Regions from separate parts of the Homo sapiens genome. Here region 2 is linked to region 1. The links come from fine-mapping of genetic effects on gene expression. A gene starts in region 1. The other region holds a variant in brackets. All regions are shown on one strand. Distances are from middle to middle.

Region 1 (2,907 bases):
CCCAGGCTGAAGTGCAATGGCATGATCTCAGCTCATCGCAACCTCCACCTCCCGGGTTCAAGCGATTCTCCTGCCTCAGCCTCCCGAGTAGCTGAGATTACAGGCCTGCGCCACCATGCTTGGCTAATTTTGCATTTTCAGTACAGACAGGCTTTCTCCATGTTGGTCAGGCTGGTCTCGAACTCCTCACCTCAGGTGATCTGCCCACCTCGGCCTCCCAGTGTTGGGATTACAGGTGTAAGCCACTGCGCCCGGCTTACTTTGTTACTCTTAATATCTCTGTGCCTCAGTTCCTAAACTAAAAAAAGGAGATGATACAGTGTCCACTTCATAGGGCTGAGGATTAACTGATATTGGTAAAGAGCTTAGAATGGTACTGAGCATGCAGTATGTATGCAGTAATGAATACTATTTCTATCATTATACACATCTCTCACCCTTCCCACCTACTGATATGTTGGCACCTTTCCTGGTGGTGGTGTTTTATCCGAATCTGAGATTTTAAGCTCAGATCTTCTAACTCCAAACTGCTAGTTCCTGGATGAGTGGCATTTGAGTAAGGTACTAAATCTTTCTCATTTTTCAGTTTTCTCCTCTGTGAGAATGCCACCTTCCTTGCACAAGTCTGAATGACACAACATATATAAGGTTCCTTGCATGTTCCTTAGCATTTAACGAATATATCATATCACCTTTCTGGTTTATTACATGTGATTCTCACAACACACTATAAGACAGATATTTTATAAAGAAGGAAACAGGATCCGGGAAGACTCGCCTGAGGTTGCACAGATTAGCTACATGACAGCGCCAATATTGGAACGAGGTCTCAGTCCGACTCAAATGTTTTTTTCATGAAATTAAAGCTGCTTTTCTAAAAGCATGAGCCCTAGAACTAAATAAATTCATGCTGTTTATGGTATTCCAATGCCTAAAGAAATGCAAAAACCAGCAAAGTAAATCTACTGCCGTGTTGCCCATTGAAACTGCAACAGAAAGTCAAAATACAAGTTTTGTTAACACCGCTATAAGTCTTAGAGACGACGACGCGGGTGACATGTCAGTAAACAAAACAAAGCGAACAGTTACTCCTTTAGCTCCCCGAGGAAACTGCGGACCGCGTCCCATACACAGTCCGCAGGGGTACCATAGTCGGGCCTTCCGGGCTGGGCTGGTCCCTGCCGAGGCTACGCAGCCCGGCCACCCCCAGACCTAGAGGAGGCCAACGCCACGCCTGCCCGCCGGACCCTCCCCCTCGGATCTCGGGGCCCAGTGCTGCGCCCGCCCGCCCCTCACCTCCGGCTCCGGGCGCTCCGAGGCCATCACACAGCCCTCCCGCGCCGGCCCGGGCCAGTGAGGGTGTTCCACTCTTGACCCCTGACCTCGCTACCTCGGCACCCAGCAGGAACCGGAAGTTGGTGGGAGGGCCGAGTTCCAGTTTTCTGATTGGTGGACGAAGCCTTCTCGTAGGCGTTTGCTGACTGGAAAACCGGAAGTGAAATCGTGGCAGCCGCCTCGGCCGCCGCAATGCAGGTGAGAGTTGCGTTGGGCGTACTAGCGGCTGGCAAGCTTCGGGTACAGGGACCGAGAGTGGGCTGGCTAAGGAGAATGAAGAGTTGGGACTGAGAAGAGAGGGCAGAACCCACGGCTGATAAGGGAATGTGGGCTGGGGGGCGAGGCTAATTGGAGCGGGAGCGGCGGCGATTAGAGGTGGGGGTGGAGCTTGCCTGACAGGAGACAGTCGGGCTAAATCCGGAGGGAGGAGGCAGCACCTGTTTGCTTGGCGTGGGAAAGGATTAGGTTGTAATACGGGGAGGCTGAGATGCAGTCCAAGGAAGACGGCTCAAGAAGGTGGTGGGTTGGCTCAGGCCCTGTCCTAAGCTGCTGGATGGAGGCTGTTGGTTGCCGATATAGCAGGGGATCTAATTGGAAAGAAGCCCAAGCAGTGAGGGAATTGTGGGCCGCGATGGCTGAAAGCTAAGCAGCTTATAATCAGAGGCCATGGTGGAACCCGGGATCAAGTTTCTGTCAGGCAGGTTTGCAAGACAGTTTTGCATCCCTCTTCCCAGCCTGTGCCCTATAGTTGTTAAGGGTGAAGAAATGGAGTAAAACAGGAGACCACCGATGGGAAGGAAATGCTTTGCAGACCCCCAGCATTTTAATTTGTTTGTCCAGTGCTTAGAAGCATGTGTGGTTTTTGTTTTTCATTTGTCACTTAGTTTCTTGCAGCTGGTAGTCTCAATAAATGTTAATGGGTTGACTGAGCTTGTGAAAGAGGCACGGGAATATTGACACAGAGATAGATGATTGCATATTAATTCAGCAAGGAGAAGGTTGAAACAAAATGATGAGAGCAGATGGAAAGCTGGAGTCGTTGGTTGGGGGAGGGAAAGGGGAGAGCAGGACTGGTGTTCAGAGAAGTCTTCATGAGTAGGCAGATTTCCCAGAGACTGACAAGACAGCCAGGCTCACAGATGCTAGGATGGAGGAAGCTGGAGTGCATGTGCTACAGAGGTGCACATGAGAGAATGATCTCCTGGCATTAGGTCTGTCGAAAATGTCTCAGTGAGGGAGTGTAGGGTGTACCTAACACAGAGAAAAACCAGGCATAGATTAGGAGGTGATGGGGAAAAGGAATCAGTTGGTGGAAGGACTTGGGGTCAGGCAAACAGGTTGGAAGGTCTCAGGGTTGATGCTGTCTATAACCCAAATACCAAAGATAGAAAACAACCTGGCTATCCTATGCCAATGAGATCCTGTGTTACCTGACTGGTGTTGCACACCATCTCCTTGGCTTTCCAGCCCTCCTTTCTATGTGTCATACTCGTTTATCTGGGTGACCAACCTGTTCCTATTGGTGCAGAGAGAGGAGAAGCAGCTTGAGGCATCATTAGATGCACTGCTGAG
Region 2 (2,907 bases), 68 kb after region 1:
TCTTCCAGAGCACCTCCTATCCTGGACAGGCAACCTCAACAGAGGGCTGAGGCCTCAGACAGTGTTTCTTTTCCTAGAAAGCCCAGTTTCTGTCTCTTTTTTTTTGAGACGGAGTCTCGCTCTGTCGCCCAGGCTGGAGTGCAGTGGTGCGATCTTGGCTCACTGCAAGCTCCGCCTCCCAGGTTCAGGCCATTCTCCTGCCTCAGCCTCCCGAGTAGCTGGGACTACAGGTGCCCGCCACCACTTCCAGCTAATTTTTTGCATTTTTAGTAGAGACGGGGTTTCACCATGTTCGCCAGGATGGTCTCAAGCTCCTGACCTCGTGATCCACCCGCCTCGGCCTCCCAAAGTGCTGGGATTACAGGAGTGAGCCACCACGCCCGGCCAGTTTCTGTCTCTTGGGTTTAACTACGCCCCTCACCCCAAGATTGACCAGCAGTAAAAGGTAGACATTGAATGGAGCTTATTAGAACATTTATTTTTTTCTGAATGACAGGCCGGGAGTGGGAGTAGCTGAACAGGGCATGTTAGTGGTGTGAGTGCTGGCTTAAGCGAAGGAGCTGGAGTGGGGGTTTGTGTTGGGGGAGCAGTGGGATGGGAAACACACCTGTGGGGCAGCTGAACTAGAAAGAAGGATGCCCAGGATAGCTATGAGACACCTACAAAGCATGGGAACCCAGTTCCCCTAAGCCCACCCCATCCCCAGATCCCTTTTTTTCTCCCTTAAGTTAAAAAAATTCCTTGAGGCAGCTTAAGTCAGAGGCTGTAAGGGTCAGACTGGTCACAGGTTAGACAGCAGAGTTTGCTCCGGCCAGCAGAGCCACGTTCTGGCTGGATGGCAGCTCAGGCCTCCTCAGCTGTGGCATCAATGCCCGCGTAAGTGAAGTTCTCAAACAGCGACATGTTCACATAGGCCTGGGGGCAGAGCAAGCTTTAGTGGGGGCCAGGAATGGGGGTGCATCTGGCCTCAAGCTCCTGGACTTCCATGTGGTGGGGGCATTTGAACTGACACTGATTTGTTCTGGAGACCTAAGATGGCCCCATGGCCAAGAGTGGCCTTTACCAGCCCAGGGCAGTGAAGGCATCAGGCCACAGTTGGGGCCTCAGGTGAGAGGCTCTCAATGCCATTGTTAGAGGAGGGTTTTTACATGCACTCTTTCAATGAATTCTTGGCTTATGCGTTCATTCATTCAGTAACTTATCTGTTCAAAAGCCATTTTAGACGACTCATCCATTTATATGGTTATTTGATCATTCCTTCATTCTTAAGATGGTTATTTAATCATTAATTTACTTGAAGAACTCTTCATATTTACTAATTTTGATATATTTTTCATTATATTTATTTGATAATTCACTTATTCACATGGTTAGTAGATTGAGTTATTGAATTACATGTTCATATGATTATTGTATCATCTATCCACTAATTCCATTCATTCATTCATACGGTTACTGTATCACTCATTCACCCATCCATCCATCTGGTTAGTGACTATTCATGCACTCTGCTCTGGCTCTGGCAGGTGGGGAGAGGTGTCCCAGATGAGGACAGGCTGATGGCCTCAGCAGAGGACAGGCAAGCAGTCTGGGACTTGGGGCTTAAGGTAGGGATTTGCTGTTGGGGCTAAGCAGTGGCCTTGGAAGAGTTTTGGAAGGGCCTGGTGTCTAAACCAGTGAGGGCTGGAAAGGCAGGCTGCATCCTGGGGCCCAGCCTAGCCGTGGTGACAGCCCCCACTGAGGGAGGTTGGGCAGGCAGTGTGGTTGGGACAGGGGTCATGGCACCTCTGAGAGGGCAC[T/C]CTGGAGCACTCTGTGAGCCCAGCCCGCCACCTCAGCCCCAGTCTCCTCACCTTCCTGGCTTCCAGCATGCGGCCTAGCTGTAGCGCAATCTGGGCAAAGGGGGGTCGCTCATAGGGACGGTCCCGCCAGCACTGACGCATCAGCTCGTACCTGCGAGGGGGCATTGCTGAGATGAGGAGTCAGGCCAGCTGGGGTGATGGGGTCACAGGGATCAAAGCTGAGGTCACTCATCACAGAGATAGGATCATGGAGCTCAAGGATGGGGTGACTCACACTTCATCGTCACAGTTTCGAGGCTGCTCCATGCGGTAGCCCTGGGGCAGCTTTTCATAGAGCTCGGCACAGGTCATGCCACAGTAGGGTGTACCTCCTGCAGGAGGGGACAAAGTGCTCTCGGTCCAGGGCTCCACGTGGGGTAAGGTGGGGCACTCTGGGGGACGGGGATCAGGAACTCACCAAGGCTCACTATCTCCCAAAGAAGGACTCCAAAGGACCAGCTGAAATAAGAAGGATGCACTTAGTTACCTTCTAGGCCCTGGTCCCTAGCAGTTTAGCTTCTACCTGCCCAAGATGTGCAGTGCCTCCCAGCCCCGCTGTATGTGTCTACTCTGTAAGTATCTGGCCTTGGCCAGCTGTTGTCTCTGCGCCAATGAAGCTCCTTCATACTGCCCCCATCCCTGGGCTCAGCACAATTAGAGCTCTTTTGTTTTGTTTTTTTTTTTTTTTTTTTTTTGAGACAGGGTCTCACTCTGTCACCCAGGCTGGAGTGCAGTGGCTTACTGCAGCCTCAACCTCCCAGGATCAGGTGGTCCTCCCACCTCAGTCTCCCTTGTAGCTGGTGTGTGCCACCATGCTCAGCTAATGTTTTGTATTTTTATTTATTTATTTATTTATTTATTTATTTATTTTTTGAGACAGAGTCTCGCTCTGTCGCCCAGGCTGGAGTGCAGTGGCGAGATCTCGGCTCACTGCAAGCTCTGCCTCCTGGGTTCACGCCATTCTCCTGCCTCAGCCTCCCAAGTAGCTGGGACTACAGGTGCCCGCCACCATGCCCGGCTAATTTCTTTTTGTATTTTTAGTAGAGATGGGGTTTCACTGTGTCAGCCA

The links.
Region 2: its variant is fine-mapped to the expression of SZT2 in blood mononuclear cells (TOPMed, PIP 0.98).

What each region holds. Positions count from the first base shown.
Region 1 is chr1:43,388,385-43,391,291 of GRCh38, reverse strand. SZT2 (SZT2 subunit of KICSTOR complex) reads right to left here and starts at 1,393. Exons shown (of 72, transcript NM_001365999.1): 1 at 1,297-1,393. The coding sequence starts at 1,323. MED8 (mediator complex subunit 8) reads left to right here and starts at 1,492. Exons shown (of 7, transcript NM_201542.5): 1 at 1,492-1,533; 2 at 2,864-2,907. The coding sequence starts at 1,528. RefSeq lists a silencer at 1,073-1,402 and an enhancer at 2,843-2,907.
Region 2 is chr1:43,320,659-43,323,565 of GRCh38, reverse strand. It overlaps TIE1 (tyrosine kinase with immunoglobulin like and EGF like domains 1), which reads right to left. Exons shown (of 23, transcript NM_005424.5): 20 at 2,257-2,297; 21 at 2,074-2,170; 22 at 1,851-1,950; 23 at 458-915. The coding sequence ends at 844. Among named protein-coding and RNA genes, the nearest start is that of MPL, 16 kb to the left of the region's middle. RefSeq lists an enhancer at 1,424-2,623. The variant T/C (reference allele first, on the strand shown) is at 1,800.